2 linked regions of the Homo sapiens genome follow. The protein of the gene in region 2 purifies or fractionates together with the protein of the main gene of each other region. This does not show direct contact. Each region holds a gene or a part of one and is shown on either strand. Other genes may lie near its edges.

The links. The genes of interacting proteins can lie anywhere in the genome.
Region 1: the proteins of PPM1K (region 2) and DBT purify together in Homo sapiens (affinity purification with mass spectrometry; 6 studies listed by BioGRID and IntAct, with this or other methods). This does not show direct contact.

What each region holds. Positions count from the first base shown.
Region 1 is NC_000001.11:100,246,825-100,254,666, forward strand, and holds the start of DBT (lipoamide acyltransferase component of branched-chain alpha-keto acid dehydrogenase complex, mitochondrial isoform 1 precursor), read right to left. Parts: upstream 3,011-7,842; 5' UTR 2,997-3,010; coding exon 2,946-2,996; intron 2,262-2,945; exon of another isoform or gene 2,075-2,261; intron 1-2,074. UniProt on the Homo sapiens protein: The branched-chain alpha-keto dehydrogenase complex catalyzes the overall conversion of alpha-keto acids to acyl-CoA and CO(2).
Region 2 is NC_000004.12:88,267,552-88,274,572, reverse strand, and holds part of PPM1K (protein phosphatase Mn(2+)-dependent 1K), read left to right. Parts: intron 1-118; coding exon of another isoform or gene 119-147; intron 148-3,285; coding exon of another isoform or gene 3,286-3,478; intron 3,479-5,666; coding exon 5,667-5,832; intron 5,833-6,238; coding exon 6,239-6,383; intron 6,384-7,021. UniProt on the Homo sapiens protein: Serine/threonine-protein phosphatase component of macronutrients metabolism.

The sequences.
Region 1 (7,842 bases), on a different chromosome or scaffold from region 2:
TGAAGGAAATAGAGTGTGTTAAGGGAACCTAGCTGGAGAAAGTTATGTTGAAGTAAGACCTGACGGATGAGTAGGTGTAACCCCGGGGATGAGGTATGTTGCAGATAAGGCCACAGTGGAGTAAGGCAAGAGTCTTTAAAGCAGAGGAAATACATGTGCAAAGGTCTGGAGTTGAGACAGAAAGCACAGTGTGTGTGCAAATAACTCAAGTTGTTCAACAGACTTCTAGTGTAGTTTAGTGTGGAATAAGGGTGGGGAAGTGTCAGAGTTGGGGTTGGGATGGGTAGGTTTTGGTAAGGAATGAGATCTAAGAGACTGGAAAGGTCCAGATCATAAATTGCCTCATAGTCATTTGAATTTTGGACATTTTGCTGAAGGCAGTTTTAAACAAGAAAATGATATTATCAAATGTCTCTTACTTTATAAGATCACTCTGGCTACACTATGGAGAATGGGTTGGAAAAACTACAAGACCACTGGAGGCATATAATCCAGTTAAGAAGGGCCAAGACACCTCCAGTTGAGGGCAGGGTGGAAAAATCATGACTAGATTTCTTCAGAGAGAATTACAGGCTCAAATCAAGAGAAACTGGGCCAGGGGCAGTGGCTTACGCCTGTAATCCCAGCACTTTGGGAGGCCAAGGCAGGAGGATCACCTGAGGTCAGGAATTCAAGACCAGCCTGGCCAACATGGCAAAACCCCGTCTCTACTAAAAATACAAAAATTAGCCAGGCATGGTGGTTCGCGCCTGTAGTGCCAGCTACTTGGGAGGCTGAGGCAGGAAAATCACTTGAACCCAGGAGGTGGAGGTTGCAGTAAGCCGAGATTGCACCACTGCACTCCAGCCTGGGCAACAGATCAAGACTCTTCTCAAAAAAAAAAAAAAAAAAAATTAAGAGAAACTGGTTTGAGGGTTCAGTTCTAGAGGCTGGAGAGTCTGACCTGCTTTGAAGCTTTACGGCAGACACTGTGAGAAGACTAAAGACAAGCTTTTCTGCTGGGCATGGTGGCTCATCCTGTAATCCCAGCACTTTGGGAGGCCAAGGCAGGCGGATCACTTGAGGTCAGGAGTTTGAGACCAGCCTGGCCATCATGGTGAAACCTCGTCTCTACTAAAAATACAAAAATTAGCTGGGCATGGTGGCGTGTGCCTGTAGTCCCAGATATTTGGGAGGCTGAGGCAAAAGAATCGCTTGAAACTGGGAGGCAGGGGTTGCAGTGAGCCAAGATCGCACCACTGTACTCCAGCCTGGGTGACAGAGAGAGACTCCATTTCAAAAAAAAAAAAAAAAAAGACAAGTTTTTCTAAGCTCCCTTGTGCTAGCCGGGGCCATGTAACACAGTTCTGGCCAGTGAGACTGGAACCTCCTCCTCTTCCACCTTCCTGCCTTCAACATAAAAGAAGAAGTCGTAGCAGCCCTCTTGTATACAGTAGGAAAAGGACAAATGAACTACTAGGGAAATGACGACATTGATAATCATAAGCCACTTAATGTGAGCTGACATCTAATTGGGGATGCTCTGTATGCATGGATACTTAATTTCCTATTTATTGGTTGGGTTTTTAATTGCAGCTGGAAAACATCACGTACATATGAAACTGGAGATTTCCAGGACAGTAGGATATATGGGTTTGGAGTAGACCTGGTTGGAAGACTGGGGAACTTTAGGACTCATCAGCATAGATGGTAACTAAAGCCAAAGAGTGGATGGGATAACCCAGAAAGTGGGAAAAGTGCAGAGGGCCAAAGTCAGAGCCCTTTAGAAAAAGCAATATTTAAAAGGCGGGAAGGGAAACAGGATATTGGGATGAAGTGGCCAAAGATGAAGAAAGAATAATATTGGGAAACTGGTGTCACAGAAAACAAGAATGGAAAGCTCTAGAAAGAAGAGAGACCAATATGTGTTAAGTGTTGCTGAGAAGAGCTCTCTTCTCCTGGTTATCTCTTACTTATCCTTCTTACATCTCAAGTCATACAGTATCCTCTGGGAACTCCTCTGACCCCCAAGTCCACCATAGGTGTCCACTCCTGTGTGTTCCTGTAGTTCTAGGCACTTGTCCCATCACAGTACCTCTCATGCTGGGTTGTAATTTCTATCTGTCTCCCTCTCCTTTGTCCTCCACCACAAGGTTGTAATCTCTTGAGAAGGAAGATATGATGTCTATTTCATATTTGTATCTCCAGTGCCTAACACAGCACTGGTACATAGCAGGCTCTTGAAAGTTTTTGTAAGATCGGGGTCACCAAGGCAGGAGCATCTAGGGAAAGGGAGAAGAGGCAGGAAGAAGAAACACTAAGCAAATAGGGGTAACAAGTATCATTACCGGTATGTGTCAGTGCTTGGTGCTAAGACTGGGAGAAAGAGAAGGAAGTGCAGGGGAGATGGTGATGGGTCACAGCCTTGGTGACAAAAGGGTAGGAATGATATGTGGTGCGGACATAGAAGTACAAGGCAAAAGAGTGACGCCGAGCTGCTCAGTTCTTCGGAAGCAGGGACCCCTGCTGATATTCTATAACTTGAACGGCCTCTTCCTCTACACACTGTAGATTCCTTGAGGGTAGGGGTCGTGTTACCAGTGTTTGGCATACTGTGGGTACGCAATAAATGCTAAACGAATATATCTCTGGATCCACAGCGCCTATCACAATGCCTGGGCACCTGGAAGGCGCTCAATAAAACGCTAGCTGGGCCTCGGGGTACAGATGGAGCAGGACGGCTGAGTCGCTGCAGAAGCGCTTCCAGGTAAGGGGAGGGAGTGGGTTTCCACTCCAGACTGGTCGACTCGCTCCGTTCTCTGCCCTTTATTTTGCATGCATCCCTTCACCTCTCCATCACGCGTGCCCTGGACGCCTGGCACCGGAGGAGAAAGTAAAACACCACTCCTGGATGACTCCGGACAAATCACTCCTTCCCGGCCTCAGATCTGCCCAAACGTGCTTACCAGCTTCCCCGCATTCCTGCTCCAGGTTCTCAGCATACGGACTGCAGCCATCTTACCCCGGAAATGACAACAGTGCCGCAAACTGGAGAGACTCTCCTCGGCGCGGCCTATCAGGAGATGGGAAACGCGCCTCCCCCTGGGCGACCAATAGGGAGGGAAGAAACGAGCCTCCCACCCAACAGCCAACCAAGGAGTAGGGCGGAGCCTGAGCTAAACCCTAGGATCTGGGACCCAGCGGGGAGTGAAAAGAGCCTGGGGGACGGAGGCGGGGCAGAGGGCAGCCCAAATTTAACACTGCTGTGTAAATACAGATGCACCAAAGATAATCTTTTTAGTGTATGTGATGGGGAAAATAGAGAGTGTTAAGGAAACACAAAGAAAGGTACTTACCTCAAGAAAGTTATGTTGCAGTAGGACCTGAGCGATGAGTTGGAAAACATTTCCCCGTCTTCATCTTGTAGTGTAGCCGCCCCAAATACAGAAAATAGAATATTTCTATACGTTGTAGCAAGGCTCTGGACAACTAGTTGTTTCACAAGTCCATACAGCAGTACTTCCCAATGACTGCCTTTTTTACTCCCATTTATGTTTTTGATTACCAAAATTGGCTAATCAATTTTTTTCATGAAAGATGAACATTACCTAATGTCTAAAATAAACATGTTATCATCTTTCTTTTTACAGACTGCTATCAGATGCAGCTAACTAGCATATGCAATACATGTCACAGACACATGATCTTGATTTAGTTGTCTCTTAAAGAAATGTCAAATTCAGGTCAAGTGGAACTGGTAAAGAACAGATCAGAGCTTTCTTTTAAAAGGCAATCTTCCTCAGAGCAACTAGGAAACCAATTCCTGGAAATGTCCAGGATGACATTAGTCTGTTATTGCTTCTTACGTGGGAATGAAAATCTGCACAGATGTCTAAGGAATTACAGAGAAAAAAAACTGGAACAAATACATTTTAAATGCTCAACATTGAAGATTAGTGGTTATGAAACAAAATCTCAGGTATTTCACAACTTCATTGTTTAATATGACCCAAACACTTTTCCCCCTCATTTGCCATTTTATGTATTACACATCTACACACAAAAAATCAATGCAAACAATAAATCTTATTATCTTTTTTGTTTGTTTGTTTGTTTGGTAGAGATAGGGTCTCTTGGGCCAGGCGTGGTGGCTCCTGCCCATAATTCCAGCACTTTGGGAGGCTGAGGCAGGCAAATGGCTTGAGCTCAGAAGTTCAAGATGGGATCTCTCTATGTTGCCCAGGCTGGTCTCAAAGTCCTGGTCTCAAACTGCGATCTTCCCATTTCAGCCTCCCAAAGTCCTAGGATTACAGGCATGAGCCACTGGGTCCGGCCTAAATAGCTATCTTTCTCAGAAAATCTAGAGTAGTCAAAAGAATTTCAAGTTTTTACATTTCCTTAAAAATGTTTATAGACATTATTAATATATTTGATAATCCCACAAGCATGTGTTTGTATAAAAAGCAGTGGCAGTTGTACCTTTGAAGTGAATCATCTCCCTTCCAAGCTGCTGCTATACAACTTTCTTTGTCCTAATTTCGTTTTTAACTGTACCTGCTCCTCAGAAGATAACTAGTTTATTTTCCTTTACCGTCTTCTTATGTCAATGGATTCTTGCTTCTATATTCAGTATAATATGTGTCCTTATCTTTCATTCCAGCATCTGGAAAGAAATACACCATCTATTCCCTAGTTAATTCTTTTATTCGAGTTTGAAAGAAACAAAGACCCCATTTCTTCTCTTTTTTTAGATTTAAAAATGGCCAGTTATGACCCACCAATTCCACTCCTGGATAGCTACATAAGAGAAATGACAACAGTGTTCACACAAAGACTTGAATAGGAATAATCATAACAGCATAACAGCCAAAATCTAGAAACAGCCCAGATGTCCATTAACAGGTGAATAAACAAAATGTGGTACATCCATATTCTGAAATATTATTCATCCTTAAAAATGACTGAATTAGCGATAATTGCTATGACATGGATGAATGTCAAAAAAATATTATGCTAAGTAAAAGAATACAAGCACAAAAGATCACATATTACATTATTCCATTTAAATTAAATGTCCAGAAAATGTTGATTTATAGAGATGAAAAACAGATTAGTTTTAGTTATATTAGTTATATAATAAGATTATATTAGTATTATTAATTAATAAGGTTAGCATTAGAAAACAAATTCGCCTGGGGCTAGAGGTGGAAGGGGCAGTGATTGCAGAGGCAAGAGAGATTTTTTTTGTGGTGATGAAAATTTTCTGTTGCCACTTTGTGGCAATGATTGCATAATTCTGTACATTTACTAAAAATCTTTGAATTATACACTTAAGACAGGTGAATTTTATGGTATGTAAAGTACACCATAATAAAGCTGTTAAAACTGTGTTATATGAGACAATAATGAACATATGAATAAAAACAAATACATAAGTCTGGACGTGGTGGCTCATGCCTGTAATCCCAGCACATTGGGAGGCGAAGGCGGGTAGATCACGAGGTCAGCAGTTCGAGACCAGCCTGGCCAACATAGTGAAACCCCATCTCTACTAAAAATACAAAAATTAGCCAGGCATGGTGGCATGCGCCTGTAGTCCCAGATACTCGGGAGGCTGAGGCAGGAGAATTGCTTAAATCTGGGAGGCGAAGGTTGTGGTGAGCCAAGATTGTGCCATTGCACTCCAGCCTGGGCAATAGAGCAAGATTCCATCTCAAAACAATACAAAACAAATACATATGTCACATGATAATATAACAAAAACCCTTGAACCTATCACTCAACTTTAAGAAATAGAACCTATGGAAAAACACATTATGTAGGTTGTCTAAAAATAAAATACATTTTAAACTAAAAAAAAAAGAAATAGAATCTTTCCCGTTAGTGAAGATCACTGTCTGCTCCTTCCTTTACCTCTCCCCTTCATAAGCGTTATCTTGAATTGTGTTTTTCATTCCTTTGTTTATTTTAGAATTGACCACATATACATATATGGATGGATGCCTAGTAACATATTATTTACTTTTGCTTGTTTTTGAGTCTCATAAAAATGGTATTAAACTGTATGTATCTTTCTGCAACTAGTTTTTCTGACATGATTTATTTATCCATTCTCTACTGAGTGGATATTTGTGCTATTTCTAGTTATTTGCTATTACCGTCAGTGCTGTTATGAACATTCTTGATCATTTCTCCTGGTGCATGTTCTAGGGTTTCTTTAGCACAGCGCTTCTCAGACATTAATGAGCATTCATAGCAACCGGGGATCTTGTTAACAAGCAGATTCTAATTCAGTAAATGTGGGTAAACCTGCCATTCTGCATTTCTAACAAGCTCCAGGTGATACAAATGCTATTGGTTAGCCAACTACACTTTGATTAGTAGGCTTAGGATAAATACCTAAAAGTTGAATTGTTGAAACAGGGGTTATGTTTATCTTCAAGTTTACTCTAGATAATACGAGATTGTTTTCCAATGTGATTGTACAAACTACATGCCTAGCTGCTGTATGTTTATTGTTTCTCATTTGATATTGTCAGATTTAAAATTTTCCCCCAATTTAGTAATTATAAAATGATGTTATAATCTTAATTTGAATTTCCCTGATTATTAATAAAGTTGAGCATGTTTCTACATGTTTATTAGCCATTCTTAGAGTGCTTGCTCAATTGTTGATATTTCTAAGATGGTTGTCTATGTTACTTTCTATAAATGTGGGACAAAGTAAGATGAAACAATTTATCCTTAAGAAAATGACTGTGGGACAGGTACGGCGGCTCTGTAATCCCAGCACTTTGGAAGGCCAAGGCGGGAGGATCGCGTGAGCTCAGGAGTTTGTGACCAGCTTGGGCAACATGGCAAAACCCCATCTCTACAAAAAATTAGCTGGGGGTAGTGGCGTGTGCCTGTAGTCCTACAGACTGAGGCGAGAGGATCACTTGAGCTCTGGAGCTCGAGGCTGCAGTAAGTTGTGATTGCATCACTGCACTCCAGCCTAGACAACAGGGCAAGACCCTGCCTAAAAGAAAAAAAAAATAGAACATGACTGTGGCTTCGTTAAATTGACACTCTGCTCTATTCAATGGAATTCTCAGAAAGAGTGACGTTTACCAAAATGCAAGATGCTAATTAATGAAGGTCTTAAATTACTTGTTTGGCTCCTTGGTGTGCCTGACTGGTGTAGAAAAATCTGAGGATGACCTTCTGAATTCTGCTCTGAATTCTAAGTGGTCAGGAGATAAATGTAGCCTAGAGTCAGCCCCTGCATTGACCATTACCCCAAAATATACCAACACATGCTTGCCAGAGCTACTGTAGTTTAACTATTTATGAATTTTGAGGACTTTTAATAGCCTAAGTATTTAAATATCATTACTTATTTAGAAACTGTTCCAATATATGCTTAGTCAACTATGTTAATATAGAGTTGTATGTATTGTATATAATACAGATATATATTTTGTTTAATATGGATAGTTTGTAGTGATTCATTAAGAGTTTGAATTATATATAGATCTGCCTCTTTTTTGCCTATCATGGGCAAGTTTCAATTTTCTTGTGTACAAGATGAGATTGACATTGATAATACCTTCCCTACCATCTTCAATATACCTTCAGGGATATTTTGAAGATCAAAGGAATTCTAGTATCTTGATACTACTTTATATGATGAAAGAGTCTATATAAATGTAGTATTAATATATTGGATGACTTATCAAGAAGACAAATAACAAATGTTGGCAAGGGTATAGGGAAAATGAAACCCTTGTAAACTGTTGGTGGCAATATTTGTAAATTGGTACAGTTTCATGGCTGAACAATACTTCGTTGTATGGATATACTTTATTTTTGTGAAAATAGAAG
Region 2 (7,021 bases):
CAGTTTACCCTCTCCAGTTTCTTTCATCTTTTCTCTTTTAGTATTAACCCCTTTCCCCTCTTCTTGAACCCTTCCTGTGAGGTGAAGGACTGTGGCTTATTCATTTTTGAATCTCCAGTGTGCAGCACCCTGCATAGAACCTGGCAGGTACTCAATAATTATTTGGATTGAACTGAGATCTCCACGCTGACTCTTTCTCACTGAAGTTACTGTAATTTTTTCTTTGATTATCATATAGCTGATTTAATCAAATTATTATAAAATGTTTGCATTTTAATGAGCTGTCACTCCTGGGTGGATTTGAATTTTAGTTAGCAGACACCTGAAAAAGGCTTAAACCATAGAAGTGAATTACTAATGGTGAGATTTTAGGTATAAAAGAGAGGCGTGCCGCTCAGTCCTACTGAAGCAGCATTGCTCGTCTGGCGTAATACTTGAGTTTCATTGTCTCATACCAAGGAAATCAAGGACGAGGACACACAAGGAGTGAGGTTAGGAGTGGAGACTTAATAGGTGAAAGAAAGAGAAAAGCTCTCTCCTGCAAAAAGAGGGGTCCCAAACAGCTTTCTAGTCCATGGTGAAGTGCAGGAGGCTTTATGGATGAACTTGAGGAGGCAGTGTCTGATTTACATAGGGCATGAAAGATTGGTTGGACCAGATGTGCCATTTGCATAGCACACGAAAAACTGATTAGGCCTAGGTGTGCAATTTGCAGAGCATTCAAGAATCTGGCCACCCCCACCCTAATCTTTTATTATGCAGATGGGTTCTCTACCTGGCCAGCGCCATGTTGCCCATTTCTTTACACATGGTGACAAAGAAAAGGGAAGATGGAACATATTGAACATGCTTGGCCCCAGGTAGCCCTTTTCTTTTTCTTTTTTTTTTTTTTTGAGACAGTTTTGCTCTAGTCTCCCAGGCTAGAGTGCAATGGTGCAATTTCAGCTCACTGCAACCTCCACCTCCCAGGTTCAAGTGATTCCCCTGCCTCAGCCTCCCAAGTACCTGGGATTATAGGCGCCTGCCACCATGCCTACCTAATTTTTGTATTTTTAGTAGAGGCGGGGTTTTGCCATGTTGGTCAGGCTGGTCTCTAACTCCCGACCTTGGGTGATCTGTCCGCCTTGGCCTCCCAAAGTGCTGGGATTACAGGCGTGAGCCATTGTGCCCAGCCCAGGTAGTACTTTTCTATTGGCACAGCTGCTGGCATTCACCTGTGCAAGCTTCCAGCTTGCTTATTTATGTTTGCAGCTCAATTTTTCAGGTTGCTCTTTGTTAGAAAAGAAATGGTTTGGAGGCTGCTTTTTGTTAAAAGGGAAGCCTTGCCACGGACTCCTTTACCCTCACTATGTGCCTACATAATTTATTTCTAGCTCCTGTATCAATACCATATTAACTTTCTTAAGTGAAATTAAAACATTCTTATCTCCTCTCAACTTCAGTTCCAAAGCTGTTACAGCTACATAAAGAACTTCAAATTATCTTACTAACATTTAAAATATTTACTGTTGAATGGCATTGCTGTTGCCTGAGCAAGTTCACACTCAAGTTACACTTAGTGAGAGCTCTTTTCTGCCCGGCATGTGTGAGTTCAGCGTGGGCAAGAGACTTTTATGTGCATTCAGTCCTTTCAGAAATGAGACGATGCCAACCACAGACGCAGCATGTCCTGGATGACTGATCTGTAAAATATAATAAAAGCTTATTGTTTGAGTAGAAAATAAAATAAAATAATTTACTGTTGTAGCTGGGGATATTTTGAAAAGAATAAAATCAAAATGCCACTTATCAAGAAATGGCAAGAACAAGATTCCCTTGCCCTTAAGAAATTGTCAGCTATTTTTATTGCTTTTTTGTTAATGCATTTTCAACCTGTCCTTAGTTATCAGTAGCAAATTTCATCACCATCTTTTAATTTTTTTATTCAATTTATACCAGTAATGTCTACTTTTACAATTAATAAAAGCAGCCAGTAAATCCGGATGATATCCCACCAGTCCGTTGTTTATAAAGAGATAGCCACTTAGAACAAACTAGATGGTAGAAAATTAGGTTATAATTCTATATTTCCTATAAGCTCTTCAGAGTGTTTCCAGATTGCTTAAACTTTGAAAGCAACAAAGCTCCGAAAGGGACAAATGGAACAAAAAGAGAAGACTTGCTCAGACATTCAGAGTGGGGGACATTGATGGCATTATGAGTCTCACCAGAAACTTTTATGTTCTTCATATCCTGTGACCTCTTTATGGAAGAATTAAACTACAAAAGAACCAGGGCTGTAAACACAGCATTTTTGAATCCCCTATGCCGGGACAGCCAAAAGAAAAAAAAAGAGAGCATTGATGAGATGTTCTTACCGTGCTGCTACTGCTTCAGCTCATTACTTTGATTTTGGTGTTCATGAGTCATGAGTCTAGAACACCCATTTTTAATAAATATTGAAACTGTATTGGTTTATACATAGTATTATTTACACAATTGAGTAATTACTAGGGGTCATTATACTTTGAAAAGTATAGCTTTTGCTCTTTATGTTGGCATTCACAATCTTGATCATTTTTCTTTTGATGTGTCGGCCTGCAACACTGGGGGAAAGAGAGAGCTGCAGAAATACCCATTTTGTGAATTATACAAAATTATAAACATGCGTCTCGCTAGCCTTTATTTAAGCAATGAATTTAAATTAATCATTCTACTCAAAAATGCCTTATAGGTACTAAGTCTCTGCATTAAGCACCATTAACAAATGCATTACTCTATGTATCTTGTATAGCGGGTGCTTTGATTCCTTCTTGATATATATTTAAGTCCCAGTAATTTGGTGGTATACTGTAGTTTACATCCTGCTTGTCAGATACAAATTCTTCCATGCTGTAACTGTAGATTTACCTTTCTATTCTTGAGACAATTCTGATATTGCTACCAAACAAATTTACAGTGCATTTTTTGTAACTCAGTAAAGGTAGTGATTTACTGTGTTTAAGACCAATTATTTCAGTGAATGTGTATATGCGTGAGTGTTTTTGTGAGTGTGTTAAATGTAGGTCTGTGTCACCATTTATGTGTCTTGGTACAGATACTTTTTTATATAGTTTTTTCAACCTTAGAAACCACAAAATTAAGAAAGAAGTGTTACCCTGTGATGAAAAAATAGGCTCAACTACAAAATACCATCAACTGGAACAAACTGAGTTTTGGAATAATTGATTTGGCATCTCCTGGAATATTATATAATTTGCTAGTTAAATTTTCACCAAAATAAAAAACCCTTCCCTTATTTTGCAGCTCTTTCTCTGCTCTCCCCTGTGTTGCAGGTTTGTAATGTTTGAGCACAATTCCTGGGTGAAATTCGTATTTGCCTCTGTGCGTGTTATTTGTGGCAGAGAACTGTGCCTGGTCAGCAGCTCTAGACCTGGAGCCCGTGGACACTATATGCGGGGCTTCAGTGGAAAGAGAGATCTGCTTAATTTTGTCCCAGGTGAAGGAGTCCAGCGGTTCCTATCCTGGACTACGGGAAGGTTCCCACATCTCTTTGTCCCATTAGTTGAGATGACTTGCAGTAGAAATTGTCCAGTGAGTGTTAAGAACTTATTGAAAGATGTCTTAGTTTTCTAGTTTTGTTGTTAGGCAAAAAGTGAGAATTTTTACTTCCATGTTAAATGTTAAATGAAAATGAATGCTGATTTAATATTTACATTCTTAAATGCTTAGCAAATCAGAATTGACAGTTAGTTTTGAAGCCTTTCCTATAAATCCTGGGATTTTGGAACTGTGAAGTTGGGTTGGTAAAAACTCAAAGTCTTAAAATTCCTAGGTGACAGAGCCATAAATTACAAGCCTAAATAACTAAACTTCTACTTATGAAATTTTAACTCTTTTACTGTGGCCAATAATAAACCATTTTTAAGAAAACTATTGTAGATGGTTTAAACAAATGGAAGGAATATTAAATTCCCGGGACAGGTAGCATCTGAATAAATGCCGTGTTCCCTTATCTGGCTCTTTAAATCGTTTGAAATATCATAGTTAGTCAAACTGTAAAGATTCCACTGTTTCATAGTCGTTTGGGTAATTTAAAGTTACGAGTTAACATTTGTAATATAAATATCACTGATACTTATGCTAAAACATTTATGTTATATGGTGGACAAATGTATCTTTCAACATTGCAGAAATATTACATTGGCACGACAGTTCCAAAATCAAGAGAAAAATGGAAAGATAGTGCAACTATAAATGTTATTTCTCAAGAAAGTTCAGCATGACTATAAAAGATTAAGTAGAGTTTGTTCATGCTTTTCCATCTTACTTTTCTGATTAAAGCAGGCATTTTAATATACTGATTGGAAAAATCTATTTATGTATATATCTCCTTCCAATGCATTACTGATGAAGTTTTCAAAATTATCTTTTTGGGGAGAAAAAAAAAGCTTGGAAAGATTGAGTCTTAATCAGTCAAATTAGTAGCACTTCGTTTTTCCTAAATGTACCTTTAAAATCGAAGTCATCTTTGGAATGTTTTAAAGAGTTAACAGTGTTACTAAAGACAATACCTGCTTTAAATAAGTTATCTTTTCCGATTTCTTCCACTTTGTTTTATTTTTTAGCCCATAATTTCACAATATTCTCACTTTTGACAAGGCTCAATGCAAATTAACAATTTTTAACAAGTGGTAAAGAACTTAGGGCAGACACTGTTAGAGGAAATCAAAGGAAGATGCAGAAATGCAGTCTGAGTTGGATGGAGGAAACGGTGACCTCAAGCCCAGTAACAATGAATTTTATTTGTTATTAGAGAAAATTCATATTTGTGGGATGCTCTGGGCCCAAACAGGACCCCAGGAGTTGCAGCTGGCAGTACTGCCCTGCGTTTGAAGACTACCTCTTTGTATTACAACCTTCTGGAGTTAGGAGTGTTAACTACACCAAGTTTATGAGAAGCTAGAATGAACTTCATTCTCCACCTCCCCTCCCCCAGATTTTCTGCTCCTGTAATGATGGTTGTAACTTTGTTTCACGTCTAGGGAGGACAAAGATAAACAGAAAAGAATGTGAGCCTGTAACCATTTTAGGATTTTTTTGGTGAACATTTATAAAATTAAAACAGTTTTAGAAGCATACAGGGGTAGAATATGCAAATGGTATACCCTTGGCATGTCTCACTTAGCCTACTAACTGATAATATGTTCACAGCATAGGAGTGAAAAATGGAAGAGAAAACCTTCTAAATCCATAGACTATAGAAAAGTCAGCTTGCCTCCATGGGCTCAAGTAGACCTAAGTCATCCCACCATCATAGCCAACCTAATTAAATTTTAATACTTTCAGTCTGGACACCAGATATCCATGAAGGTGTTGTTATAAGTTCAAGTCAGCTCTACTTGATATGAATAGAGGCCATTTGTAGATAGTGATGCAGTGTTTGCCAAATAAGGTTAGCAACCTTTCCGTTTGCATGGAGACTTGTTACTGAATTAAATACTTGTTTCTCTGCATGCTGTTACTTACATAGTTCATTTGCATTTTATTTGCTTAGCTCTAGTTAAATTAGAATGATATATTCCAGCATTAGTTTATCATGCTTGTGTTTTATTTTGTAATAAAAATTCCATATCCAATCATTTGACTGTCACTAACTTGTACTCTTTTTTTCATAATACTTGTAGCAACTCTTCTGACCTCTGGGACTACTGCAACAGTAGCCCTATTGCGAGATGGTATTGAACTGGTTGTAGCCAGTGTTGGGGACAGCCGGGCTATTTTGTGTAGAAAAGGAAAACCCATGAAGCTGACCATTGACCATACTCCAGAAAGAAAAGATGAAAAAGAAAGGTACTACCACCACTGATCCATCATATCATTCTATGTGGATGATGTTTTTAGTTCATAATAGTTTTTAAACTGATGTCATGGTTAAGTTTAACAGTGACTTGGTTTTCTTTTTGTTTTTTTGAGACAGAGTCTCACTCTGTCGCCCAGGCTGGAGTGCAGTGGCGCAATCTTGGCTCACTGCAAGCTCCACCTCCCGGGTTCACACCATTCTCCTGCTTCAGCCTCCTGAGTAGCTGGGACTACAGGCGCCTGCCAACACGCTCGGCTAATTTTTTGTTTTTTAGTAGAGACGGGGTTTCACCGTGTTAGCCAGGATGGTCTCGATCTCCTGACCTCGTGATCTGCCCTCCTTGGCCTCCCAAAGGGTTTTCTACATATCACACCATTGTCATTTAACTTTTAACAGGATCAAGAAATGTGGTGGTTTTGTAGCTTGGAATAGTTTGGGGCAGCCTCACGTAAATGGCAGGCTTGCAATGACAAGAAGTATTGGAGATTTGGACCTTAAGACCAGTGGTGTCATAGCAGAACCTGAAACTAAGAGGATTAAGGTAAGAAAGGACCTGCAAACACTTGATAAACCTGCGGAGAGTGAATGTAGGATTGTCTCTGCTGCACCTTTCTTGGAAGCCTTAACTGAAGCCAAAATGATTTTTAAAAGGGAGTAATTTATGGAAGGATAAAAAAACTTTTCAGGTAAAATAAGATGCTACTATTCTGGCCTAATTTATTGTAGAGGACAAAACAATTCTCTTTTTCCCCCTTTTTAGGTTCTTAGTTGAGACACTTTCTTGAAAATAAAAGTCAGATTAACTACAACAACAACAAACAAACAAGCAGACATTTGCACGTGCTGAACCCATTGTACGGGAAAGGCCTCAGTTAAAAGTATTTCTCTTCCAAGGCAGTGGCTTAGGGGCTTTGCTTAAATTGTATTTAAATAGCCATAGATCCTGCATAGTGACAAGATAAAGAAGAGAACAGTTTCAGTCTTTTAAAAGTCAGGAAAATGTGGAGAGATAGTAAAACCTGTTCCCAGATTTCTCTGGTGCCTGCTGGTTCCTTCTCTGGGCCAATAAACAAGTGCTGTCTCCAGTAAAGAAGGACTGATGTCCTGCCACCAGGCAAGTAGAGGCTGAGGAAGTGTACCCCTGCCTTTTCAGTGACTTGACTTTAGCAATCCTCAATA